4 linked regions of the Homo sapiens genome follow. The protein of the gene in region 4 interacts with the protein of the main gene of each other region in a biochemical or structural test. Each region holds a gene or a part of one and is shown on either strand. Other genes may lie near its edges.

Region 1 (7,025 bases), on a different chromosome or scaffold from region 4:
AAAATATGACAATTAATGAATCAATCCTGGAAATATAATAATCTTGAATGAGGTGATCTGTGGGATGAAATAATAATAGACTTAAGCCATCACCTTGAACAGTGACCCAACCCATACCTACTTATTTTTGAATGACTTGTTTCCTACCACTTTCACTTCTGAGTATGTTCTGAGTATATGTGCGTATACCAAGTATTGAGCACTCACTCTCATCAGCACAGAGCTGATTGCTTTGTGTGCTTTATCTAATCCCATCCTCATATTAACTTAATGAAGAAGGTATTCTTGTTTATCATAAATTATTCTTGCTTATCTTGTAAAATAAATTGAAGTTTGGGAAGGTTCAGATGACTTTCTCCAAATATCATCATAGGTAAGAATGAGTCAGCTCTTGCTGCTTCCAAAGATCATTGACACCAGAGGCTGACAAATGAGTGTTCTTCATGAGTAAGATCAGCATAAATACAATGGAAATATTAAAAAAGAATTGTCTCCATGAAACACTCTCCCAGATGACAGTATTTGTAAGGATGAGTAATAGGGAAGATGATGAGCTAAGCATCTGGTAGAGTAGCTCCATTGCCAGGTACCAGAATTGTCCCAGCTCTAGGAGAAATTCTAGCACCTCTGTTGTCTCTCCACTCCTTGGGCAATTCTGTGGTTCTTTTCCAAGTGACCTAGTAGGCAGCTCTAGGGAGAAGGGTTGGAGGCACTCACCTGTGGAGACGCTGGCCGAGGTAGGGGGGCTGCGGGCCTGTTCTTTCAGAGCCACCACATTGACAATGTATTCCTCCCCAGGCTTTAGTCCTGTCTGGTTAAAGGACGTAACATCGCTGGGGACCTGAGCAATCACTCCCCCTTCATTGTTCTGGACAGTGGGGAGAAGCAGAGAGCAAAAGAGAAAAGTCACTGGGAGAGAAATCTGATGAGAGAAAGATAAAGGTGTGGAATACTAATTGTGGATTGTGAATTTAAAATGGGGGCGATGTCTCTTTCCTCCATGCTGACAGCTGAGTATCTGGGGCCAGAAATAACTCCCCATAGACTCCATAAGAATGACACCACCCTATGAGGATTTGGCAAATGGAGGATCAATTTTTAAGAACATTTCTTTGGCCACTCCTGAGTTTGCTGAGTTTGCCAATAAAAATTAGTGATGAGGTGGTGCAGATTGGCTCTTGCCAAAGATCAAATGTTTGATGGTTGCGGTTAACATTCATCAGAGGTTTTTGGCATTTATCGTAATGAACATGCCCCCGGCTATTTAGGAGAGGATAGTCATGTGTGTTTGTGTGTAAACATCTTTATATACACACACAACACATTTCAAACTAAGACATTGCTATGAGATAATTGTTTATGAGCCAGAGCTAATATTTTGCTATATCTGGAGTTTCTCATGGTGCTACATTCGGTGTGAATCTGTCGATGTCTTGTTTCCCCTTCACCCAGATGAATTAGGACTCAGTGACACAACCACATATGAAGTACAAAGAAAGGAAAAAGGAAGCTTGGAAAAAGATAATACAAAGAAGAGAAGAAGGAGACAAGAGGGAGAGGGAATGAGAAAGAGTAACTTGACGAAATTGAATCTAGGATTTATTATCTATCTTTCTATCTTATCGTTCCCTCTCTCTCTTTCCCTCCATATACTTTCTATGAGTGTCCTTAGAAATGGAGGAGACAAGAGGGCCTCTTTTGGAGGGCACTGCCATTCTCCCCTATTCTTTGGCCTCTATTTATGGTACCCAGGGTGCCTTATATGTAATTTACAGTCATACTCTTATAAATCAGTGTGATGAATGCTCCCCAGTGGCCTCAACCTACAGATCACAACAGTTATTAAACCATGTGGCCATGCATTTGACCTTGGCATTCCCTGGTCAGCCTCTCTTTTAATTAGAGTTTTACATATTGGGTATAGGTAACAGGAGAACCTGGCGTAATTTTTCTTCCTGAAAAACATTGGTAGCAATGTTCCATTCCAATTGACATGATCGTTTCAATTGTTATGTAACTCAATTGCCACATTTTATTTATCATTTTAACTCAAATAGGACACATTTGTATAGATGTCTGTTTAGATTTATTTACCTTGCTGTGATGTGACTATAATATGACTGTAAATAAGAAAATGGGGCATACAGATTTAGTGAACAGAGCCCCGGGATAGGTGGTGGGGACCCAGGTACTCGTTTTAAGCCTGTCACCAACTAGCTGTATGATGTCCTTCAAGTTTTCTGAATCGTAGTGTCTATAAATTAAACTAAACTAGATGTAAAATGAGGGGTCGTACCTGTGAACTTGAAGGTCTTTTGTAACTCCAACAGTTCACAGCTCTAAGAATTTTGAAGTAAAAGAATGGTGAAATCATGGTCTTGTTAGCCAAAAATGTGTCATTTGTCATTAAGTCTGATGAATGGCTAAAAAATGTTCTTTGATGTTGAAGAATAAAGACAGAGGGAAGGAGTATAATTGAACTTTATATCCTCATGAGTGGTACAGTTAGGGAGGACATTGGTAGGGTCAACAAATTCTGGAAATTTAGAGCCAGGCATACACCTGTGGCAATTCGGAAAAGTTAGTTTTAGAATTAAGAAAATAAATAAAATACTGCTTTAGAGAGTAGAAAGGAATCTTAGGATACTTTAAAAGTCATAGACTAATAAAAAAGTTGCTAAATTAATAGGATACAAATGTATTATGAATAATCCAGGAGAGCCAAGGTGTTTTGTTTTATGTCTGTAACCTTTAGGGATTGATGCCATGCAAGCTGACTTTTCTGTGGTGCATCTGTCTGCACAGAATGAAGCTTTTGGCTGATTATGTGATGGATTCAGCCTGGCTTTTCTTATGTCCTAAAGAGAAGCCTCAATTTTTTCAGGGTCTGGTTTTCATGCTCACCAAAACTATGGCTCATCAGACCCCAGAGTTATCTCAGCAGAGAGCTGGAGCTGGTGGCTGCTTCCCACATCCTCTGTTCTGCAAGGCCAGGGTGCCATGCTCAGGGCTACTCTTGTCAGCAGGTCGTTACCACATATTTGTCACAGAAATGTTCTATATCCCAGACACCCACAACATGCCATTTTGTGTCTTTAATGGCATGGAGAGAGATATTGGGTAGCACTTTCCTTGCTGCCCCTGATTCCAAGCTAAAGGTACAAATATTCCAAATAAGTCTGTTTGGCAGTGTAACAGGTGAGTGTTACCTTTGGAATGAAGCTGATTTCCCACCCATCGAAGGAAAATGAGAAGGGCTCCCACTGCACCTCCACGGTGGTCTCTGTGATCGTCTTAAATTGTAGCCCTTGAGGAGTGGAGAGATCTGGAACACAGCAATGTAGGTGACAATGTCATGGCTAACCCTTGGGACAGACAGCATTGCCTGGTGCTTTGTCTTGGTGAACTCCCTCCACGCCATGGGCGTGGTGGTGTCTGGTGGACAATCCCAATCTTGCTCCAGACACAGTGAGTCCCAGGTGCAGAATCAACCCACCCCATGTGGCTCTAGTGCTCGATGTTGATGGAATACATGAGTTAACTTAAACACAATCTATATAAACAATTTTTAATGCTTTTTATTGCATTAATAGGTTACTATTAAAATGCAGACATCATTTTTCTTTTCTTACTAATGTGGTAGATCTTGGCATATCATATATAGTACAGTGCCTTTTTCAGAGGACTTGAGCAGTATCTTTAGAAGCTTTACAGGACTCCCGGGAGGTACTATGATGGCTTCTATCAGTGTTCTCATTTTGCACACAGGAAAAGAGAGGCACAGAGAAAGCTGGCTAAAGTTGTGGAGCAAACCAGTTTCAGAATTAATACTAGAGTGATTTCCTTGATCATCTGATGCACATTGAGAGTATTTTGTTTAGCTCAAATCACTAAGTCTAGGATGGTCTGAATTTTTCATTTCATGTATCTCCCTCTTTTCCTCCCACCACCCCTTCTCCCCCAACCACACAGTCACATACACATGCACAGGTTTTGTGAGATGGAAGTGTGCTTGTCCTAATGGAGTTTCAATTATCAGCCCTGAAATATGACAGCATGACTTTTCTCAGTTCTCCAGGAAGCCTGCTCCCATTTTAGCTTTGCCTCTCATGGGCTATTCCCATTGGAAAAAGGACAGATTTTCTCATCCTTCCTGTTTGGAAGAGTTCTCATGCTTCTTGGTTGGAAGGCAGGGCTGACTGCAAGCCCACTTGAAGTTGTGTCAGGTGGTTTACATGATTTTGTCCTTGTCACCTGGGAGCTTGCCTGAGGGAATGCCCTGAATTGGCATAATAAATGCCACAGGAGATGGAAACCTCATCACTGTGCATGCATGTGGATCAGAGAGGAGACGCTTGGGAGTTAGGCCAGGCACTTAGGGTGGTGACTCATCCCGGAGCAAGGTGGGAAAAGCGGCAGATGGTGACCTGCCTCTCTGCACAATCATTGCAGATATTTAAAACCAGTTCTCAGGCACCAGAGGATTTTTTTTTTAAAAAAAGGTCAAATATAAACAGAGATAATTATAGGCATATTAACAGAGTCAGCACTCTTCTCATAGCGGAGTCCAAAATTATAGCAGAATTTCTGTCACCTGAAAAGCAAGGGGACAAGATGACTTCTTAAATTCCTTCCCCTCTGCCTGTCTCTATCCTTGCATCCTTCAAAGGTCAATTCAGTCCTGGAGCTTCCATGAAGATTTCAAGGCTAAATCTTTCTACCTTGACCTTTTCCTTTTCTGAACTTTCGTGGCATTTGTTACCTGAATACCATCTACCTACACAAAATGGGCTCAGATCTCTTACCCCTTATCTGGTGGTAAGTCCTATTTACTGGCCCGGGGGCTTTCTGAATTCTAGAGGGCTTATGTTTTCATGGTTACTTCTTGTTCCACTTTCTTGGTATTGCTAAAAATCTCTGTATCACTCATACCTCATCTCCTTTGAATGTTCTCTTCTCTCTTCCCAGATTTTAATCAGATACAGCCCCTTTTTCATGATCTCTCCAAAGACTTTCCACATAAGGCACAGAGGCATTTGTGTGCATGCAGGTTTTGCAGTAGACTTGGGGTGATGAGAACTTCTCTTGCCTAAATTATTCTGCCTGGCTTTTGAAATTCTAAACTAAAACAGGCTTATTGTATCAATTTAAGAATTCAGAGGGGTATAAAGAAAAATATAATAATTATTTCCTATCTCCTTCTTATTCTACTCTGTGATGTAGTCAGTGTTAATAATTGTTATGTAATCTTTTATATTTTTCTATGCTTGAACATACACAAAATATAGGTACACACCCACAGAAGTTTCCCTTTATGTATAAAAAAAACTGTTCATTTCTTATGGAGAGCAGTTTAGATTGCTTTCTGTCTCCATCTCTCTCTTTCTTCCCTGTGAATCCTTCTAAATTATGCTCTAGGGCTTCAACTTTTATAACTAAAATGAACTATTAAGATATTTCACTAAACAAAAGACCAGGAGGAAATTATGCCACCTCTCTATCAGGAGAAGGGGATGTTGTCAGCTGTGGTTTTAAATAAGATTTTTTTCTCACTTTGCTATACACTTATGGTCGAGAACACACCATTTAGCACTTGCTTCTTAGAGGTCCTAGTTCATATCTCCTTGTTTTGGATCCCTAACTGATTCAAAGTCTGTAGATGTCTTACACTTTCCTTGACTTCTAGTCAGAGTCTAGCTTATAACAAGCCAGTACTCCATAATTAAAGTACTTTTTGTCCTTTTGGTTCTATAATTTATGAAAGCTGCCTGAATTTGGAAACTCTCTTAATCGAAAGTGCCTTTTTAATGATGTACCCTTTCTAAATGGGTCACATCTCTAGCCCTTCCCCTCAAGGGCAATAACTATTCCAGGCATCCCTGAAGAACTAAGAAAAGACGCTACTATCATGAATGCCCATGATCTCATGTAGGAGAAAAGAAAAATGAAGCAGGACGGGGAAATGGTACGTACGGGTGGCCACCTTGGCAGTGATGGGAAGGCTGAGGATGTTGCTAATGACAGCGTAGACGCTGATGTTGTAGGTGAGACCTGGCTCCAGCTCCGTGATGGTGACACCACTCCAATCTCCAGGCACCCGCTGCTGGAGCTGGAGGCCCCCCAGGGCCGTCGGCTGGTAAGAGATCACATATTCCGTCACTGCCATCGGCCCGTCCCATTCCAGCTCAATGGACCTGTCGCTGATACCAGCCACTCGCAAGTCCTCTGGAGGGGCAACTACCGGGAGGCAATACACAGATAGCATGAGCTCAGAGGATTGCCTTCCCCATCCTGGACTCAACTTTCTTCCTCACATCTCACCCCCCATGCCATGTCTATATGTCCTGCTGGGCTCAATGGCTTTAAGTGATTTGTAACTTCCTTTGTGAGCAGGCTCTTGTCTTTTTGGTGCTTAGTACCCCAATCTCTATAAGGTCATGAACATGCACTGGAGCCAGCTCCTACTGGCTTGTAAATGCTGATTGTCAAATTTTCAGGACTGTTTCAAGACTGTCGTTGAATACAGCCATTATTAAAGATTCAATTTTATAACCTAATACTTAAGTAAATTATATTAAAAATAAAGGTAATAGATATTCAAAATTTATCACTCTCAAATTATTTGACTACATTTTACTATTATGTGTACCTTTAAGATAATTTATGTGTGCTCTGTCTGGTGAAAATATTCTATGATTGTACTCTACTACACATCTGTTTCCAGCTCCATGTTTACTGACGTCATGTTGGTAATTGAAATTGGCCATGGAGAGAGTATTTACATCATGGAAACTGGCAAATGCTACACAACGGGGCTTTTAAATTTTTTTCCTTTAGGGAGCCAGGTTGTTAGGTATTTAACAGCACACCACTGGCCAACATTTTTGGTGGTTTAATAAGTTATCGTCATCAGATTACCCTGGGAGCCAATATCTGATTTGGCAAGTGGAAATAAAGACTCATTCCTGATTATCTTGCAAATTATGAGAAGCCAAAACAGTAAGTCCTGGATACCACGGCCTGAT
Region 2 (7,025 bases), on a different chromosome or scaffold from region 4:
GGCATGCCTATTTTGTCCCAAGCAGTATGTTTGGATTTTTAGTGCAGATCTAGATGAACAAGAGCAAATTTGCAGTCCCTTTAAAATCTATGAAGCCTTGTGCTCCAGTGAAGAATTTCCCAGACTACGTTGCAAGATGTTTTTAGGTAGATGTCCTATGGTCAGGTATGTTTGGAGATACTGGGCTAACGAAAGTTGAACAGATTAATTACAGCAAGATATCTCAGATGATGCACTCTACTTCCCTGAACCATCCATTGGCTTCTAACCACACTCAGAATGAAATTCAAACTCCTAGCCATTGCCTACAGAGCTCCTTCTCTCATTTCATTCAGACATCTGCACAATGGCACATTCACCTCTCACCCCATCTAAAAGAGCACTCCTCTCACCACCAGTCATTGTTTATGCCCTTACCTTGTTTTGTCTTTCTTCTTAGCAAATATCACTACCTGAAATTGTGCTATAAGTTTATGTGATTCCTTTTTATTGTCTGCCTTCCCCCTGCTATGGTCTGAATGTTTGTGTTCCCTCAAAATCCACACATTGGAACATAATCACCAGTGTGACAATATTAGTTGGCAGAGTCTTTGGGAGGTACTTAGATCATGAGGGCAGAGGCTTCATAAATAGAATTTGTGCCCTTATTAAAAGAGACCCCATAGAGCTGCCTTATGTCTTCTGCCATGTGAGGACATATAAGGTGCCATCTTGATCTTGGACTTCCCAGCCTCCAGAACTGTGAGAAAGTAATTTCTGTTGTTTGTAAGTCACTCAGTTTATGGTATTTTGTTGTAGCAGCTTGTACAAACTAAGATATGCCACCATAATGTAAACACCATGAATAAAAGGATCTTGACTGTATTGCTTTCTATTGTATCACCAGCCCTAAAACTATGTATTGAATGGACATATGAGCTGTGCATTTCCAAGAACAGAAGAGTACCAAGTGTTTCCCAAACTCATTTGGCCACAAAACCCTTTTTTAGGTGATTCCCATGAGAATGCTTTTCCACATGACACACTTTTGGGAACTGCTTCTCTAGTGGGATCTTATCATCAAGAACTATTTGATCAACAGGTAACAAAACAATGACAACAACAAAACATTTATATTGAATGCCAGTTTCTGTGCTAAGCAGTGTTCATGAACTACATCATTTAATCATCACAATAAACTTTAAACTAGGTGCTACTACTTTGCTTTTAATATGGATAAGAAGAAATTAGCTTAAAGAAGCTAAGTAACTTGGCCAAGATCACATAGCAAGCAAATACCTCTCAAACCCAGAGGATTCTTATGCCAAAGTCATACTCTTAACCATTATTCATTTCTTCTTGTGGGCTGTGAGCTTCTCCATGTCCTAAGATAGAGAGCTCTTTGTCTCCATCCCACCCTTGAGCCTGTTCTTTCCTCCTATTAGTTGTTGACTAATCTTTGTTATAACCTCCAGATTTTCAGCTATCTCTTGTGACTCAGCCTCAAATCCCCAGACAGGACTCCTCTGTCCTTGGTACTGGTTTTTCCAAATCCAAAGCAATTTGTGTTTTTATCCTGAAGGCCACCTCTGAAAGCAAACACATTCCTTGAGGTCTGTGTCCTGAGACAGTTTCCTGTCCTAGGGCTGGGATGGTTTCCTCCTATCACATGTTGTGTCATCACACTGCATACTTGCAAGCCAGTGGGTGAAGCGTGAAAACAACTTCAAGCTCTGGGCTTTCTGAGCAAACTGCTAAGGAAGAGGATGTCCAAATCTGGGACACAGCAAGGACTCCTATTAATTGCTAAAGATTAACTTTATTCCAGTTGTGCTAGGTTTCAGATAAACCAGATACAATTTTTTCTTTTAGGAACTATATTGTCAAGAGGGGCAGACAGGCCATTCCAGGATGATAAAGGAGATGATAGATTTAAAAAAAGAAACATAGGTAGAATGAGATGACAGTAAAAGGGCATCTAATTTACCTGGAGGAAGTGGTGCCTGAACTGAATTTTGAGAGAAAAATATGAATAGGTGAAAAACATAAAAAAGGATATTCTAGGCACGAGGGAATGGCATTTACAAGGATATAAAAAGAATAAAAGGGTTGATGTGAACAGTATGAATGACAGCTGAAGTACAGGATCTGTTTAGAGACCAGAAGCAAGATCATGGAGAATCTTGAATGTCAGAATATCTGGACTTTTTTGCAGGCAGAAGAAAAGCATTTGGAAATCTTGAGGCCCAGGAATGTTAACCTCTATGTCTCAGGTTGAAGAAGGGGAAGGCTGGGTTGCTGGGGGCCAGTGGGAAAGCTGTTGCAGTGGCCCATCTGTGAGATGCTAAGATCTGAACTACAGGGGTAATGGAGGTGGGGCAGGGGGTGGTGATCAAGAAAGTGGGGAGGCAGTGAACAGATTTGCTTGTCAAGGCAGTAGAGACTACAACATTTTGTGTGTGGGGTTAGTAAAGAAAAAAGAATTAATCGAAGATGTTACTATTCATTATATCTGCTGAGAGGAATAGATTGAGGGAGGAACAATGGATGAGTTTTAGTTTTGGTCACACTGACTGTCTTGCTTTAGAATAAAATACATTTGGAATCATTGCCGTGAAAGGCCCCTCCCTGGGGTGAAATTCAAGAGAAATTATGGCTAACCAATGAGTTAAAACAACTAATCAAAACACTTGGCTCCACTATATACATGGGAGGATGTTAAATAAAAACTAGTCCACTTTAGTGGCTGCCAGAATTTTTTTTTTTTTTTTTTTGAGACAGAGTCTCACTGTGTTGCCCAGGCTGGAGTGCAGTGGTGTGATCTCGGCTAACTGCAAGCTCCGCCTCCCAGGTTCACGCCAGTCTCCTGCCTCAGCCTCCTGAGTAGCTGGGACTACAGGTGCCCGCCACCACACCCAGCTAATTTTTTGTATTTTTAGTAGAGACGGGGTTTCACCATGGTCTCGATCAATTTTTTTATTACTCATCAGTGAGGGTACTGAAGGGTTGAGTGAACTTGTCATTGATAAGAGGTTGCCAGAAATTGGTGACACTGGAGTGCTGGAGGCTGTGGCAGGCAGACTCTAAGGTGGCCCCATTGATACTGCCTCCCGGCATTCTCATACGTGTGCAATTACCTCCCCTTGAGTGTGGGATGGCCCAGTGACTTTCTTCTAACAAACAGAATATGACTAAGGTGATGGAATATCCCTTCCATGATTAGGTTACACAGGATTGTGATGTGCCTCTTGCTTATAGACTTTCTCTCTCTCTCTCTTTTTTTTTTTTTTTTTTTTTTTTTTGAGATGGAATCTCGCTCTTGTTGCACAGGCTGGAGTGGAATGGCTCGATCTTGGCTCACTGCAACCTACGACTCCCAAGTTCAAGTGATTCTCCTGCTTCAGCTTCCTGAGTAGCTGGGATTACAGGTGCCCACCACCATGCCAGGCTAATTTTTTTGTATTTTTAGTAGATACGGGGTTTCAGCATATTGGCCAGGCTGGTCTCGAACTCCTAACCTCAAGTGATCCACCCGCCTCGGGCTCCCAAAGTGCTGGGATTAAGAGGTGTGAGCGACCATGCCCGGTAACTCTCTTTCTCATTGGCTTTGTTAATGTAAATGGCCTTGTTGGAGAAGCCCATGTGGCAAGGAACTGAGGGTAGCCTTGGACCAACAGCTTTGAAGGAACTGAGGCCCTCAGTTCAATATCTCTCAAGAAATGGAGTCCAGCCAACAACCACATCAACAAGCTTGGAAGCTAATCATCCCCCAATTCAGCCTTTAGATGAGACATCAACCCTGTCCAACACAGACAATAACCTCATGAGAGACCATGAGGCAGAAAATCCAACTAAGCTGTGCTTAGACCTCTAGAAACCATGAGATAATAAATGAGTGTTGATTTAAAGTAATTTGGTATGCAGTAATAGATAATGAATACGGAGATACTAGTCATCCTTGGCTCGGTCCGTGTGAGTTAAGGCTGTTGAGAGAATAAGACTCTGCTCATTTTTCTTTTCTAAAAGAATGTCTTAATTCTGAAACTTTTAAGATTGTCCCTGGCTTCCAAGAGCAAGAGTCAGAAGACCTAGGATTCCAACCTGACCCTGTTGCCAACTGGCGGAAGATCTTAGAAAGATCTTTCCCTTCTCTATGTCTCAGTTTCACCCTCTTTAAAATGAGGTATGCTAACCTAGGCCAGCAATTTACAAAAACATTCTGTTTTTTCTGCACAGAGCCCTTTCATCAAATAAAATTTCATGAGGAGGCTCAGTGTACAAAATAGATAAGTGGAGGGGCTTTCATTGAAATAAGGTTGAGGGGAATCCCCTGCTTGGCCTCCCTGTCTCTCCACAGCAGCCCCCAAATCTTTTTAAATTCTTTTTAAAATCCAGTCTGCAAGATTCTGGCTTAGAGGCTGCCCGTAAGCCCTTTTAGTTTGAAAATTCTGTATTCCCTAAGGAGATTTAAGAAAATAGTAACCTACCTAGAAGTTAAAGCATTCCTCTGCAATATCTGTGCATCGACCTTCACAAGACCATCCCACAGTCCTGGGCATCTCCTTTGGGGACTGTGCTAATGGTGCGTCTGCCCATGGTGGGTCCGTTTTTGGGGAAAATGAACTCCAGCAGACAAAGCTCCCGCCTCCCTAACATTCTTGACCTCAGTGGTGTACAGTCCAGTGTGGCAGGGAAGGCAATCATAGGGGTAATTATGACACAGACAGTGGGGGACGTGCAGAGCTCAGTTGGAACCTGGAGCAGGGGGATTCCAGGCAGCCTGCAGGGCACTCATGGCTTCCCTTGGGCAGCACTTGCTTATGTGTGTCTATGCTTCAGGTCTCAGGCTGGTTGCAGGGATGTGATGTGGATCGGGCTTTGCCCTCATGTAGCTTAAAGTCTAGTAGAGAAAACGTATTACATTATGGGTCACATGCTAATCATTTAATTACAGTTTTTTTCAAGAGGTGAAGCCTGAAGGAGCAAGCTGGAGATAGCAAAATTAACCAGTCTGTCAAAGAACACCAGGGCCAAAAAGACAAGCTTTTGTGTCTTTCTTAGCTTTGCTGTGTCTAGCCCTCTCTCTTGTCAGAAGATGAATAGAATTAGGGAGCTGAGCATGACTTCCTTACTGAAATGGTTATAACTAGCCTCTCAGGACTGGGAACTGGGTTTGATTTTTAACTCCACCAAGTACTTTCTGCATGGTATTGGGTAAGCTACTTAAACGTTTTCAGCCTTACATTGTGCATATTTGAATAGGGTGGGTGATAAGACTTACTAGAAGCTATGGTTGACTAAATGGCATGATGCCTATAGAGTCCTCAGTAAATATTAGCTATTACGATTATCCCCTAGGATTCTCCTAGGAGAACATTTCAGACACATTCTTGTCGAAGTTAGCAGCAGCCAGCTTTAGGGTTAGAGGTGAACAACGGTCAATTCTGAAGCAAAGCTATCTATGTTCAGAACTCATGATATATCTCTGGCTCTTGGTATAGGGTATTTGAGGAGGGTTAAAGGACCAAACAAAGCTATTTAAGTTACCATGGCTATATCATGAAGGACCTATGAACTTCAGGAAACTTCAAAATTCTGAGACGACGTGGCATGAAATACATATTTTTAAAATCTCCATTCACAGATAGACTAAAAATGCACATGGAAGGGATTTTCCGTTCGCGATCTGCTTTTGACTTGGGCATTTTGCTTTTATTCCATGATGAAGGGCCAAAGAGAGTAATGATAGTGACAGGGTTGTTTCTAAAGTGGAAGAGAAGCTGGAAATGTGAGACAAGGTGGAGGGAAAGGAGTTTAGGCTTAAGGGCATAACTGAAAAATGTCTGGCCACCAGGATTAGAATCAGGTTGGTTTGCAGACTTTTCTCCTTTACAGAGAAGTCACAAAGCATGTATAGCCCCCGAAGGTAGGTAAGTTCACCATCTCTGTCTTTTACATTGAATGGAATTATGGCCTGGGGTTTGCAGGAGGCTGGTCATGTCACACTTTGAGGGGGGTTTTCCTCCTTGGAAGGGAGCCTTCATCTAATGTTTCCCACATGTTGAAGGTGTTCAAACTGGCCCGGGATAAGATTCAAGGGGATTCCCTACAATCTTCTCAGAGTGAGAGGTATTTGAATCATAATCTTCCTCTCTGAGGCTTCCGCTGAATTTGTGGCTCAATTTGTGGCTCGGAGCCTACAACCATTTCCAAGCTGTCCTGGGATTCATGGCCCCAAGGCCGATTTCACTTTACCTACCAATCAGCCCTTTTAAAACCAGATGTTTGGCTCACCTGTGTGCCTACTTTTCTGAGATGAAAATCAGCAGGAGTGACCTGACTGCTACCTCTAGTTTCATTCTTCTCTCTTCCAGGGCTGAAATTTGAACTTTCCTGTTTCCAGGCAGAGAGTTGCACCATTGAGAGCTGACCTTTGCTGAGAACCATGAAAAATGATACATGCAGGGCTATTCTGTAAAATCAATAGGCACCAATGCCAGCTGGGGGCTTCTCCACCATCTTGATCATTCACTGAAAGACACCATTTAAGGTTCTAAACTTGGTCAGCACAGCCTGACTTCAGAAGGCAATATAGCACAGCAGAAAGAACAGTGGGGTATTAGTTAGAAAGCTTGGGTCAAAGCCAGCTCTGCCCCTCAATTACGGAAAGACCTCAGATGAGTCACCTAACTTCCTTGAGTGTCGATTTCTTTAAAATTGAGCTAGTAATTTATAATTTGTAGTGTCTGAGTGAGAATGAGATGAGAAACCATTGGCAAACCCTCCTATTACATATGTGACACTATTAACTTTGTGTTTGTGTGTTTTACCATCACAAAAGGACATATATTTCGAGCCAACTAAATGTTTGCAACCTACTTTTTACGTTTCAAACTGAAGTGGCTTCAGCATGAAGGGGGCTGCGCTTTGGTCCAGTGGATATGTTTTCTTGTAAGAAAGCACAGCTAGGTGTCTATAGAAATCTAGAGAGAGAGGAGAGAATATGTGCTCTTAATTTATTGTTAGCATTAGAAAGGGTAGGATTA
Region 3 (7,316 bases), on a different chromosome or scaffold from region 4:
TGCTTTTGTTTGCATTCTCTTTGGTAAACAAAGAAACATGGGCTAATCTTGTAGCAAGGAATCATCAAACTAAGAAAGGACTTACTCTAGGATGGTTACCGTCAGGATACGGAGCCCACAGAAACTCCCATAAATGTTCCAGGTTAGCAACAGCCTCTGGGTGGTTTGTTTAGATTGGGGTTGTAGTCCTGAAGGATGAGGGGGTGGCCAGCATGCATGAGGGGATGAAAAGGATGTCTGCCTTCTTATGGATTCCTGAGTCACATCCACCTTTTACCATTTGAAAGAGGATTACTAGAAGTTGGAAGAAATTTACAGGGTCAGCCAGCCCAACCTTTGCCTCTAGGCAGGACTCTCTAACCTTGGACCAGACCCCAGTTCTCCACACCATCCTTAGAGTCATCTGAAAGGAGACTGCCCCACCTCCTCATGGCTCACTCTTCTAGCCAGGAAGTGTCTCCTGCAGTCTAACTTAAGTCCCTCTGGCTTCCCTGGCATATTCTTTGCTCTGGTTCTTCCTCCCCTGCATATCAATCACCTCTTCTCCAACCCCCTGGTTCTGCCCTAGGAATCCCTCCAAAAATACAAATACCACCCACACTCAGGCTTAGAGATTGTCTTTGAAATACGCTTTCTCACCAACGTTTGGCTCAAGGAGGTTTCTGAAGAGGGCACCATGCATCCTCCAAACCACCCCAAATGCGTTGCTTCCCTGGTGACTTTAGAGGCAGAAAGGATGCCTTGGGGTACACCTGTCTATGTACATGCTCCTAAGGAGTAAGTTTGGTCAGCCAGAGACGAGATGTGCAATCACCCCGTTAAGCACAATTCCTCGGAGGCCCATCCCACATGTGTCTCTATTTGAACAACTGCTGGCAGAGAAGGTGCTGGAATGGAGTTGCATAAGGAGTGAAATCTGGCAGGGGAAATGGTGGCGGCGGGAGGCTGAGGGCTGAAGCCGGTGGAGTACACGCGATGAGAGAAGGGAGTGCGAGGAAAGAAGGAGTAGAGGAAGGGAGGAGAGTAAGAGAGAAAGAGCCGGGAATGAGAGCAGACTCCTGGAGTCTGAGGCACTCATCTGCATAAGGAGTGTGCCTCTGCTTCCCTCACCGCTCATGGTGTGAGCACAGTGGTCTCTGCACCTGTGAGGCAGGTGGACCTTGGGTGACTTTGACATCATCAGGTCAGGGGCCCTTTCCTGTCTGTCTCACCTCCTGCCTCCCTCTTATTCGCTGAGGACTTCCACGGGAGATTAGGAAGGACTCTGACCTTGTGGCAAAAGCCCTGTCCATGGTTCTGCAGCTTGGCTAGAAAGGGGTTAACTGGTGGGCACCCTGGGGAGGGGCTTGGATGCTGCTGTCTTTAAGGGGAGAGCTCCCTTCTCCCAAGGCCAGGAGTGAGGGCACCTGTTGTGACCTCCAGGCCATCTCCCTGTCCAGGTGCGATCACAGCAGCCTCTCCCACAGGTGGCCCACCTTTTGCTGCACTCGATCTCCAGTGGCTCATCCGGCCCCTCTGAGTGGGACCAGGAGGTAGAGAGACTCGGAGGCTAAGTGAGCTGAGGCGTCTTTGGCCAGACGGTTGGGAGAGGAGGCCGAAACTGTTGCCCAGACGAGACCAGAACATCACCTGTGCACTGGGTTTCTTGGGCTGTTCCTCCTCCCAGCTCCTTCTGAGCAGAGGGAAAAGATGCTGAAACCCACCTTTCTCCAGGGCTGGGGCCATGGCATGCACAACCCCACTCCCTCCTGGCCTCACTGGACCCCCCCCCCCAGGACACAGGCTCAACCCCCAGGGGTCTGGGGCTAGAGGGTGCCCGTCTCCATCCCCAAGTAGCAGCAGGATTCTCCCCTTCCATAGGCACTGCCTTCTCCATGCCCCGCTGCTTCCCAGACCTGAGAGACCCTCTTGGAGAAGGTGACAGGATTCAGCTCTGGACACTCACTGGCTGGGGCTGCCCCCCACCTCCAGCCCATTATGTAAGCCCCACGGTGCTGGGCAGAAGGATTGCCCTCTCTTTCCAGAACTCCCCAGCTCTGCCCCTTCCCTTCCCCATACCATTCTGGCCCCAGCCCCTTTCCTTACTGGAAAGCCAAACTTTGTGCAAATTCTTCCCTCCCACCAGTGAGGATGGGGGGGAGGGATTTGAGGAGAAGCTAAGGTTGGGAGGGGGAAGGGAAGGAAAGGAATTTCAGCCCGGTAGCCCCAGCCTCTCGCCCTTTGGGATGTGACTGGCCTCAGGACTCTCCTCCCCGAGTCCCAGTTCCTGGACAGGCCCTTGCCCAAACTTGTGCTCCACTCTCCCCTCTCTCTTCCACAGCCCCCCTCTCCATCCAGCTGAAGCAAGACTTTGCAAAGAGGTCACCCTGCAGAGGTAGACCCTGGGTGACCTCAAAACTGGGGACTCCGGCTCAATTCCATGCAGGGACTTCTGGGGCAGGCCAGGGCCCAGGGCCTGGCTGTATGGACTGGTCCTGTCCTGGACCGGGTGCCCAGGGCCGGCCCAGGAGAAACTGCCCTCTCCACAGGCAGCTGCCACTGCCCGCTGGCCAACTGGAATTCCTGGACACACTCCTGGGGTCCAGCTTTTCGGCCAGGCTCGGCCTGAGAGAGCCCTGCGGGATGCCGCCCACGTAGACAGGGCGGAGGGGAGCCCCAGCACCCACCCTGGGGCTGAGGGGAGAAGTCAGAACGGCCCCAGCCTGCCAGTGTTCCTGTCCCTGTTCCCTCCCAAGTTACAAGGGGGATATTTACAGGAACTGAGCCGGGAGCCCCGGCCCATAACAGCACGCAGGGAAGTCCCTGGGTTGGAGGAGACAAAAGCGGTTGGCACCTACCTGGGGCGAGAGAAGGGTGTTGGCTGGGGCAGGTGGATGCTGCCCGAGTCGGTGAGCCGGGGCCGGCCGGGCCGCCAGCCCCTGTCTGGGCCGCTGTCCTTTGGGCCCTGGCGGCCTCAGCCGCTCGCTGTCCGGGTGCGGCGGCGGCCGCGGCGGCGGTGGCGGGTGAGGGCGCGTGTGTGTGAGCGCGCCCGGAGCCACTGCAGCATCTCTGCATCAAGATGTGCTCCTCCCTCTCCCAGGCTCCGCTCACTGGCTGGCTCTGGTCCTCAGCCAACGCTCGGGGGCCCTGGAGATGGCTTCCTTCTGCCCCCCTCCCACCCCACTTCCGTCCCCACCCTCCTGGCTTTACCTCATTTGCTGTCATTTAAGGACCAGGGAGCGAGCCCAGCGCGCGTCTTCCATAATGCATGGGCCGCTCATGGACAGGCCGCGGGGCGCTGTCTGGCCCGCCTGCCCTCCCGATCCTGCCCAGCCCCACTTCTAGTCCCCCTGCCCAGGGCTGAAGGGGCAGGAGAGGGGCGGGGTGAAGAGGGAAAAGAAAGTGGCTCTTACTCCTCAAACCCTGGAGACCCATGGAGCCAAAACTCCTGGTTTCCCCAGAAATCCCCTATCCGAGGAAGAGATCCAAATCAGAAATCCCAGCTTGCTGTGTGGGGCAAGTGGCAGGGAGGGGCTGTCTCTGTTGCCCGGTCCACCCCATGTTCCTCTTTATTGTTTCCCTTGTTCAAAAGTAGTTTGAGCTTTTTGTCAAAATATCTAAATATTAGAGGACATTTAAAAATACATAGTGAAAGTCCCTCAACCACTACTCTTAATAAATCTAAGTACATGCCCCCAGGTTTATTATTTTCGTGTATACAATTACATGGGTTAGTAGGGTTATTTCACACAAATGTGATTACATAAAACAGTAGGATTGGCCAAAGACTTTTAACTGTGTAACTGATCTTGGACACTTTTACGCATCAGTACGTTTGGATCCAATCCCATTTTTAAGCAACCAGCAGTGTGATGTCATGAAAAGCTCCCTGGATTAGGGGTCTGGGTGTCTGAAGCATACTCTGGGCTCCACAACCGACTGGCTGTGTGTGCTTGGCTAGGTGCCCTGCCCTCTCTGAGCCTCGCTGGTACCTGAAGGGATTAAAGATGGACACAGTCCTGCCAGCTCTGAGATTCTAAGTGCTCACCCTTGTCAGCGATGCCTTTCTCCTGCCCTGCTCCGGTCACGTGGGGGAGTGCCCAGGAAGGCTGTGGCCCGGAGGCGGAGGGACCAGCCATCTGCGGCACCAGTCGGCCCTGTCAGGCTGTCACTGTTGTCTCACCCCCCTCTGATCTGCCTGCTGTCCAGCTTGCACAGGCAAGACCGGTGAGCAGTCCAGATGCTGCAACAGCTGGCAGGGCCAGGCCAGCCTCCCAGTTTTAAATGGCTATACCTGTCAAGCCTGGATCATGGCTCCATGTCTCCCTGAGTGGAGGAGGTCCTGGGGACCTGGGCCAGAATGAGAGGGTCTGGAAAAGGAGAAGGAGTCGGGGAGGTTCTGCTGCTCAGCCTCCAAGGCTGGAATGTCTGCCCAGGTCCCACATGCGCTCCCCTCCTTTCCTTCTGAGCCCCTCCAAAGGGCTTGCCCAACTTGAGAGATAGTCTTCTTTGTTCCTGATGGGGAGGACTTGGATTTTGCTAATGATGTTTCTTAAATAATGTTGAATGCTGTTATATAGACAGACACATCAACCCCTTGCCAGGATATCTTTCCCTTCCTTCCCCTGCCCACACTGTCCTTGCCTATCTGTATGTCTGAGGGCTGGCACATTGGCTCTGAGCTCCTGAGGTGAACCTTGCTCTTTGGCACCATTCAAGTCAGCCTGGGCTCCAAAGAGAGGCTCTGCAAGTTCTCTCCTAGCAGAAAACGGCAGGAACAAGTCCTTGCCAAGAAAAGGATGCTATGTCTGCTGCAGGGGGCTGACGGGCCAGGAAATAGGCTGGCCCAGGAACCAACAGTCTGGAAATGCTTGCAAGGATTGCTTTAGACGGAGACAGCTGTCTTTGTGACTCTATTTTAGGACAGCTGCTGCCCTGTGGTGGGAGCTGGGTCTCTGGGGAGGGTCGTTAGCACAGGTGACTTGGGTCTTAAAGACTCTCAGATCTCAATGCAACCAGCATGCTCCATGTGGACTCTGGCAGACACAATAAGTGAAAACAAGAACATTTGCCAAGCCTAGACTTGGATGGGGAGACAGTTCCCAAAGTCTCATCTTCTCACTTGTCTGAAGCTCTCAGTGAAGTCTAGTATGAATGAGTTTGGGGAGATTAGGGGGATCTGCACTCCCAGTCTCTGAGATGCTCCTGTTCCTGAGGAGAGAGTGGGGTGGGCATTTGGGGGTGCAGGCTGAGTTTTGCTTGTGGGGCCCATTAGCTTGATAATAACAGAAATAATATCTGTTTTGAATGCCTCCCACATGCCGGGAGCTGTGCTAAATGCTTTACCTGAATTACTTGCGCAAGAGGTCCATGTTGTTATTATCCTCACTTTTCAGATGTTGCTCAGTAAGAGTAAGGAACTTGCTCAAAAGAAATAGTAAACAAGTGGAACCCTGGGCAACGTGGCGAAACCCCGTCTCAACAAAAAACACACAAAAATTAGCCAGTGTGGCAGTGCACACCTGTAGTCCCAGCTACCTAGGAGGCTGAGGTAGAAAGATCACCTGAGCCTGGGAGGTTAAGCCTGCAGTGAGCTGTGATCGTGCCACTGCACTCCAGCCTAGATGACAGAGTGAGGCCTGGGATCGGCCTCCAGCATCCTGGCTTAGCCACCGTGCCATGGACTCCAGCTACCTACTGTCTGTTCTTTTGAGGTGGGCAAAATAGGGGGCAGAACAGTTTCTTCTTCTTTGGTGACATCCAGAGCCCACAATCTTCAGTGCAGCTGACCATAAGGGCCACCTCTCCTTTCTGTGGCTGATCAATATGACTCCATGTTGTCCAGAGCTGGGACTCCACATCTCAAAGTTGAGTCCCCACAGACTTTCAAACAGGGCAAGAAAGGGCCAGTGAAGATAATCAGGTGGCTAGTCAAATGGCTTATAAATTTGTCCGCAAACATGTGGTGCTCCCTTGGTGGTGGTGGGTGGGGATCAGAAAGCATTTTGAGGGCCACCCAACCCTGCCCAGACCATCTGCTTCTTCCTACTGTAGCCACACAAGATTGATAGCAATGGAATCCAGTGGGTCTCTAACCGATCAAGAAGGGACCTCTAGGCCCCATCCCTGGGGACAAGTGGGGAGGAGATGAGACCCTGCCATGGCCCCAGGATGCTGCAGCTTTGCTGTCTCTTTCCTCACCACTCCCCCGCCTCACCTCTCCTTTCCTGGCCTCTCCCGCCACCAGCATCTTTGCCCAGACCCTTTTCCCAGGAGGCCATGTATTTATGGAGCAGCTCCTCTGCCTGGAATGTAGGGATCCAAGAGCCAGGGGATGCGGTCTTCAAAGTGCCAGTGACCTTTTTGGAAGCAGTGTGACAGTGGTAACAGGACTGTCCATCCACAGCTCTGGGGAAAACTGATATGGCCATAAGGAAAAGCTCTGCAGACAGACCCGTTTGACACCCAGTCCTGCTACTGAGGAGATGTGAGGCCATGGGCAAGCCACATACCTCTTCACCCAGAATATGGGGATGAAGACACATACCTCACTGAGTTGATGTGAGTGTTGAGTTACACGTGAAGTAGCTAGCACAGCAGGTGCTCAATAAATGTCAGTATTTCCCTTTTGGGATTTAGCCTCCCTCATCTGTAAAACAAGGATATGAGGCAGAGCAGTAAGGGCTGCAAGTGGTTGGGGTGGCTCTGGATTTGTAGTCAAGAGAACTGGACTCTGTCCCAGCTCTGTCACTCCTACCTGGATGACTCTGGGCAAGTAACAGAATGACACTTAATCGCCCAGATAATCCATTTCTTCACCAGTAAAATAGGAATGATCCTACTCCTATCTAGGATGGTAGTGAGGATATGTGAATTAAACATAATGGTTTTTAAAAGCACTTTGAATTGCAAAGTGCCATATCAAATACTGATGGCCATTCCCTCAGCTATGCAGTCCAAAAGGTAGGGATTATCTCATCAGTCCGTATTCTCCCAGTCCCCCACCCTCCTGTTTAGCACAGTGCCTGGTGCATGGTGGAGACTCAATAAATATTTGTTGACTGGGTGAATGAATGAAGGAGAGTAGCTATAGTAACCATTCAGAGGATGAGGAGAGAGGGAGGTAGGATGTGGGTGAAGCTTTCAGTGGGGGTGGGTGGGTGCATCTTGAATTGAGCCTGGATGGACAGAGAGGAGGTGGGGAATGTGTTTCTGGCATGGGGGCATGTGGTGTGGCAGGAGCCAAGATGTGGGGCCTGGGAAGGCCATGATTTGTGTAATGCCTGGAGAAGCCAAGTTGACCTAGCAGGGGTGCTGGAAGGAAGATCTCAATGCCC
Region 4 (7,025 bases):
ACAGTAGATGCTCAATAAATGACTCAGTGAATGGATTATTGTACAGCAAACATCCCGTGGACTCCTGCTGGGAAACCTGTTTCCCTTAACTTAAATTGACCTTGGGCAAGTCCCTGATTCCTGTCTTGGGGCTTAACCTGCATGCCCCCAAACTGGGAACTGGGGACACAGTGTCTTACCACATAGTTTATGGAGTCAACCAGTCATCCCCTTTCAGAGGCCTCATTTCTGAAAATTGATAAAAGCTAACAACAACAACAACAACAAACTGATTGGTGGTGAGGCAAGTGAATTCCACATCTAGGTAACTTCAATTTCATTCATTCAGCCAAACTCTTTTTGTTGTTGTTTGAGACAGAGTCTCACTCTGTCACCCAGGCTGGAGTTCAGTGGTGTGATCTTGGCTCACTGCACCTCTGCCTCGTGGGTTCAAGCGATTCTCCTGCTTCAGCCTCTGGAGTAGCTGGGATTACAGGTGCACACAACCACACCTGGCTAATTTTTGTATTTTTAGTAGAGACAGGGTTTCACCACATTGGCCAGGCTGGTTTCCAACTCCTAGCCTCAAGTGATCTGCCTGCCTCGGTCTTCCAAAGTGCTGGGATTACAGGCATGAGCTGCTATGCCCGGACATTCAGCCAAACATTTATTGAGCACCTACACTGTACTGGTCCAATGCTGAGGACACAGAGCTCTCAGTTGGATAAGCCAGAGCAAAGTGTTTCATTTCATTGTCTTGTTCAGCCATTTCTTTCATCCCTAAATCAGAATTTGAATCACAGTGAGCCTGTTACCAGGGCTTCACATCCTGGCTTACATGTCACCTCCTCCAGGAAGCCTTCCAGGACCACATTTCCAGGCCAGGCAAGAACCACATTTGGGCCGGGCGCGGTGGCTCATGCCTGTAATCCCAGCACTTTGGGAGGCTGAGGTGGGCGGATCACGAGGTCAGGAGATCAAGACCATCCTGGCTAACATGGTGAAACCCCATCTCTACTAAAAATAGAAAAAAATTAGCTGGGCGTGATGGCAGGCGCCTGTAGTCCCAGCTACTTGGGAGGCTGAGGCAGGAGAATGGTGTGAACCCGGGAGGCGGAGCTTGCAGTGAGCTGAGATCGCGCCACTGCACTGCAGCCTGGCGACAGAGTGAGATTCTGTCTCAAAAAATAAATAAAATAAAATAAATAAAATAAAAAATAAATAAATAAATAAAAAAGAACCACATTTGGTCTCCCATTGCTGCCTGTGCTTCCCTATTAGCGCATGCACTTAATTCCTAAAAGGCAGAAACTCTCTGTCAGCCTTCTCCACACCTCCTGCCACCTCCAGGGCCTAACCCTGGGCATGAAGAGTGCTATCTTTGGAGTCAGATCTCTCTGAATTTGAATTCTGGTTCTGTTTCTTATTTGCTGCGTGGGCCTGGACCTGTCCCTCAACCTTTCTGACCCTAAGTTTCCTCCTCTAGAACAATCAGATTTGTTGTAAGAGTTCAATAAGATAATGCTTATAAATGCTTTTCTTTTTTTTAATGTTTTAGTTTTTTTGAGATGGAGTCTTGTTCTGTCTCCCAGGCTGGAGTGCAGTGGCTCAATCCCGGCTCACCGCAACCTCTGCCTCCTGGGTTCAAGCGATTCTCCTGCCTCAGCCGCCCTAGTAGCTGGGATTACAGACGCATGCCACCATGCCCAGCTATTTTTTGTATTTTTAGTAGAGACAGGGTTTCACCATGTTAGCCAGGCTGGTCTCGAACTCCTGACCTAAAGTGATCTGCCCACCTTGGCCTCCCAAAGTGCTAGGATTACAGAAGTGAGCCAACATGCCTGAACGGCCGTAAACGCTTTTCACATTGTAAATATTTGCTAACTTGTAACCCTTTATGGCCATTGTTATCAGTTTCCTCATCTGTAAAATGGGGGCATATGGATCTTGCTCCCCACCCTCGACCCACACTGTGCCTGGCGCTAGGTCTATTATTATCAGACAGGGGTGGGGAGTCATTCTGCAAGAGGTAGGTCTGTTCTTGAAGATTCCAGCATAAGTCAACTGTCCCCCCATCCTGGATGTTCCCCCACAGGTGTTGTGTTCCACTACCGATCAGCCCGGGACCGCTATGCACTGACCTTCGCTGAGGCCCAGGAGGCCTGCCGTCTCAGCTCAGCCATCATTGCAGCCCCTCGGCATCTACAGGCTGCCTTTGAGGATGGCTTTGACAACTGTGATGCTGGCTGGCTCTCTGACCGCACTGTTCGGTGAGGGGGATACACAGGGCAGGGAGATGAAGACTAGCTCATGGGGAAGGAGGTTCCTTGGGGGCTCCAGGAGCACACATCTGAGAGGGACCCTCCCCTTGTGTTGTCAGGTATCCTATCACCCAGTCCCGTCCTGGTTGCTATGGCGACCGTAGCAGCCTTCCAGGGGTTCGGAGCTATGGGAGGCGCAACCCACAGGAACTCTACGATGTGTATTGCTTTGCCCGGGAGCTGGGGGGTAAGTCTGGGACTGGCAGGACCCGGCCCCTCCGCCTCTCTTTGAGTATCTATTATTCTCCCCAACTCCCATCCTCCGGGGTCCTTATGCAACTCCCCTGTCTTATACCTCCCTAAACCTGCAACCAAGACATGATTCCACTCATTTTCTGAGCTTTCCATGCCTCCCTGAGTCCCCCTCCCTCCCTTTGCCCCCTTCCTCTCTCTGATCCTCTTTCCCTCTCTAATCCCCTGTCCCCTGCCTGCCTCCCTGTCCCTATCCCCTTCCTCCTCTGTGAGCCCCCTTCACCGAGCCCCTCCCTCTCTCTGAAGCCCGACTTGCCCATGGGCCTGAGTTACTCCATTTGTAAAAAGAGGCTTAGCTCTGCATGAGAGGTAAGGACAAGGATGATCCCGGAGCTGGACGCACAGCTGCGGTTGTCACCGCCTCTTCTAACCACCACCCTAACACGTCCAGGTCGGAACTATTTGGAGTTGGACCCACTTCCTGGGCTCCAGGGGAGGGTTCCCCAGCCCCCCTGACCTCCACCCGCCCCTCCCGCAGGCGAGGTCTTCTACGTGGGCCCGGCCCGCCGCCTGACACTGGCCGGCGCGCGTGCACAGTGCCGCCGCCAGGGTGCCGCGCTGGCCTCGGTGGGACAGCTGCACCTGGCCTGGCATGAGGGCCTGGACCAGTGCGACCCGGGCTGGCTGGCCGACGGCAGCGTGCGCTACCCGATCCAGACGCCGCGCCGGCGCTGCGGGGGCCCAGCCCCGGGCGTGCGCACCGTCTACCGCTTCGCTAACCGGACCGGCTTCCCCTCACCCGCCGAGCGCTTCGACGCCTACTGCTTCCGAGGTGCGTGCGTCCCCTGGTGGCCGCGCCCCCAGGGCTTTCACTTTGGCGAAGGCCACGTCCCTGAAAGCCTCGCCAAGCCAAGGGAGAGACACATGGAAGCTCGCTTTGTGATAAGCCACATCCCTGGGTGAGGGCCACGCCCCCGGGTGAAGGCCACACCCGTTACGACAAGTCTTTCCCTAGGAGCCCCGTCCTGGGTAAAGAACAGGGCTCCAGAGGAGGCCACTCTGGTGGGGAGTCACCTTTGCTGGGTGGGCTGTATCTCCTGAGGTCCGGAGGCCCCATAACCTTGAAAGACAAGCCCCTAGGTGGGGCATACTCTACCTAGAGCCACGCCCATACGCAGAAACACCCCCGTGGAAGAGATAATGCCTCAATTGGCCACCTCTGGGCACCACACCGGATGTGGGAGCAGGGATGACACTCGCCCTTGTTGGGGGGCAGTGGGGACAGCTTTGGAAGCTGCAAGCATCAACCCCAAGGAGCCATGTCCTCTAAGTAAGCTGCCCCAGTCCTGGCATGGGCATACCATGCCCACGGGGCACCACCTGTACCAGGGGAGGATCCGTCACCAAGGTTGAGTTGAACCCCTCAACAGGCAGACCCAAGTTCATGAGAGTTGGACACTACCTGAGCTTTGCCCATGAGCCAAATTGTCTTTTTTTCTTTTTTCTTTTGAGACAGAGTCTCACTCTGTCACCCAGGCTGGAGTGCAGTGGTGTGATCTCGGCTCACTGCAACCTCCACCTCCCTTGTTCAAGCAATTCTCCTGCCTCAGCCTTCGGAGTAGCTGGGACTACAGGAATGTGCCACCATGCCCAGCTAATTTTTGTATTTTTAGTAGAGACGGGGTTTCACCATGTTGGCCAGGCTGGTCTTGAACTCCTGACCTCAAGTGATCCACCCACCTTGGCCTCCCAAAGTGCTGGGATTACGGACGTGAGCCACCGCGCCTGGCCCAAATTCTCTTGAGTCCTCACTGCAGCCAGTTGACTCTGACCCTGACAGTGGCTCAGGTGGTCTCCAGCCTGAACAGTGGAGGTGAAAATTTTGCACTTCCCTCTCCCAGGCTGGGGGAATCTCAGAAACTACTTAGGAGAGACAGAGGTACACAGAAGGCTTATGCTGCAGCATGCTGGAAAGTGGGTAGACTTCAAGCAGAACTTCCCAGGCAACCCCTGGGCCTAACACAACCTCTTCTGCTTTCTCCCACAGCTCATCACCCCACGTCACAACATGGAGACCTAGAGACCCCATCCTCTGGGGATGAGGGGGAGATTCTGTCAGCAGAGGGGCCCCCAGTTAGAGAACTGGAGCCCACCCTGGAGGAGGAAGAGGTGGTCACCCCTGACTTCCAGGAGCCTCTGGTGTCCAGTGGGGAAGAAGAAACCCTGATTTTGGAGGAGAAGCAGGAGTCTCAACAGACCCTCAGCCCTACCCCTGGGGACCCCATGCTGGCCTCATGGCCCACTGGGGAAGTGTGGCTAAGCACGGTGGCCCCCAGCCCTAGCGACATGGGGGCAGGCACTGCAGCAAGTTCACACACGGAGGTGGCCCCAACTGACCCTATGCCTAGGAGAAGGGGGCGCTTCAAAGGGTTGAATGGGCGCTACTTCCAGCAGCAGGAACCGGAGCCGGGGCTGCAAGGGGGGATGGAGGCCAGCGCCCAGCCCCCCACCTCAGAGGCTGCAGTGAACCAAATGGAGCCTCCGTTGGCCATGGCAGTCACAGAGATGTTGGGCAGTGGCCAGAGCCGGAGCCCCTGGGCTGATCTGACCAATGAGGTGGATATGCCTGGAGCTGGTGAGTTGCTCTGGGGGAGGCGGGACCTACCTGGGGATCTGGAGGTGAGGGTAGAGAGGTAGCCATGGCTACACTCAGAATGAGGGAGGAAGCTCCAAATCCCAGCTGGGTCCTCTGGCCCCAGAAGCCCCCTCTCCCTTGGGCCTGGAGTCCAACCAAAGGGGCTGCTGAGAGATCATTGTAATGATTGCCTTGATGTTGTTGCAGGTTCTGCTGGTGGCAAGAGCTCCCCAGAGCCCTGGCTGTGGCCCCCTACCATGGTCCCACCCAGCATCTCAGGCCACAGCAGGGCCCCTGTCCTGGAGCTAGAGAAAGCCGAGGGCCCCAGTGCCAGGCCAGCCACCCCAGACCTGTTTTGGTCCCCCTTGGAGGCCACTGTCTCAGCTCCCAGCCCTGCCCCCTGGGAGGCATTCCCTGTGGCCACCTCCCCAGATCTCCCTATGATGGCCATGCTGCGTGGTCCCAAAGAGTGGATGCTACCACACCCCACCCCCATCTCCACCGAGGCCAATAGAGTTGAGGCACATGGTGAGGCCACCGCCACGGCTCCACCCTCCCCTGCTGCAGAGACCAAGGTGTATTCCCTGCCTCTCTCTTTGACCCCAACAGGACAGGGTGGAGAGGCCATGCCCACAACACCTGAGTCCCCCAGGGCAGACTTCAGAGAAACTGGGGAGACCAGCCCTGCTCAGGTCAACAAAGCTGAGCACTCCAGCTCCAGCCCATGGCCTTCTGTAAACAGGAATGTGGCTGTAGGTTTTGTCCCCACTGAGACTGCCACTGAGCCAACGGGCCTCAGGGGTATCCCGGGGTCTGAGTCTGGGGTCTTCGACACAGCAGAAAGCCCCACTTCTGGCTTGCAGGCCACTGTAGATGAGGTGCAGGACCCCTGGCCCTCAGTGTACAGCAAAGGGCTGGATGCAAGTTCCCCATCTGCCCCCCTGGGGAGCCCTGGAGTCTTCTTGGTACCCAAAGTCACCCCAAATTTGGAGCCTTGGGTTGCTACAGATGAAGGACCCACTGTGAATCCCATGGATTCCACAGTCACGCCGGCCCCCAGTGATGCTAGTGGAATTTGGGAACCTGGATCCCAGGTGTTTGAAGAAGCCGAAAGCACCACCTTGAGCCCTCAGGTGGCCCTGGATACAAGCATTGTGACGCCCCTCACGACCCTGGAGCAGGGGGACAAGGTTGGAGTTCCAGCCATGTCTACACTGGGCTCCTCAAGCTCCCAACCCCACCCAGAGCCAGAGGATCAGGTGGAGACCCAGGGAACATCAGGAGCTTCAGTGCCTCCGCATCAGAGCAGTCCCCTAGGGAAACCGGCTGTTCCTCCTGGGACACCGACTGCAGCCAGTGTGGGCGAGTCTGCCTCAGTTTCCTCAGGGGAGCCTACGGTACCGTGGGACCCCTCCAGCACCCTGCTGCCTGTCACCCTGGGCATAGAGGACTTCGAACTGGAGGTCCTGGCAGGGAGCCCGGGTGTAGAGAGCTTCTGGGAGGAGGTGGCAAGTGGAGAGGAGCCAGCCCTGCCAGGGACCCCTATGAATGCAGGTGCGGAGGAGGGTGAGTACAAAGTCCCGGGGCTCTGTCCAGCTCTCCATGGTCAGGGCTTGGGGAGCAGGGGCTGGGGGATCCCAGAGCAGGGAGGAATGGTTGTCCCTGGGGATCTGGAAGCTTTCTAGTGGGGCATGACGCTGGAGGTAGGAGCTTATCAGGTGGAGTTGAATTTCAGAAAGGACATTCCTGGCAGAGGAACGAGCACTGGCAAAGGCCAGGAGATGAAGTAGCGCTTGATCAATTTCGGGCACAGAGCATACATCCCAATGAACAAAGTGTGAGAGTAGTGAGTGGCCGGGCATGGTGCCTCATGCCTGTAATCCCAGCACTTTGGGAGG

The links.
Region 1: the proteins of NCAN (region 4) and TNR form a complex in vitro, tested with the Homo sapiens proteins (one study listed by BioGRID).
Region 2: the proteins of NCAN (region 4) and TNC interact in far-western blotting, tested with the Homo sapiens proteins (one study listed by BioGRID).
Region 3: the proteins of NCAN (region 4) and CNTN2 form a complex in vitro, tested with the Homo sapiens proteins (one study listed by BioGRID).

Annotation. Positions count from the first base shown.
Region 1 is NC_000001.11:175,390,571-175,397,595, forward strand, and holds part of TNR (tenascin-R isoform 1 precursor), read right to left. Parts: intron 6,238-7,025; coding exon 5,974-6,237; intron 3,326-5,973; coding exon 3,210-3,325; intron 869-3,209; coding exon 718-868; intron 1-717. UniProt on the Homo sapiens protein: Neural extracellular matrix (ECM) protein involved in interactions with different cells and matrix components.
Region 2 is NC_000009.12:115,108,145-115,115,169, forward strand, and holds part of TNC (tenascin isoform 1 precursor), read right to left. Parts: exon of another isoform or gene 6,859-7,025; intron 3,408-6,858; exon of another isoform or gene 3,285-3,407; intron 1-3,284. UniProt on the Homo sapiens protein: Extracellular matrix protein implicated in guidance of migrating neurons as well as axons during development, synaptic plasticity as well as neuronal regeneration. Promotes neurite outgrowth from cortical neurons grown on a monolayer of astrocytes.
Region 3 is NC_000001.11:205,038,916-205,046,231, reverse strand, and holds the start of CNTN2 (contactin-2 precursor), read right to left. Parts: upstream 3,021-7,316; 5' UTR 2,838-3,020; intron 1-2,837. UniProt on the Homo sapiens protein: In conjunction with another transmembrane protein, CNTNAP2, contributes to the organization of axonal domains at nodes of Ranvier by maintaining voltage-gated potassium channels at the juxtaparanodal region. May be involved in cell adhesion.
Region 4 is NC_000019.10:19,221,947-19,228,971, forward strand, and holds part of NCAN (neurocan core protein precursor), read left to right. Parts: intron 1-2,074; coding exon 2,075-2,249; intron 2,250-2,359; coding exon 2,360-2,487; intron 2,488-3,030; coding exon 3,031-3,324; intron 3,325-4,539; coding exon 4,540-5,127; intron 5,128-5,334; coding exon 5,335-6,693; intron 6,694-7,025. UniProt on the Homo sapiens protein: May modulate neuronal adhesion and neurite growth during development by binding to neural cell adhesion molecules (NG-CAM and N-CAM). Chondroitin sulfate proteoglycan; binds to hyaluronic acid.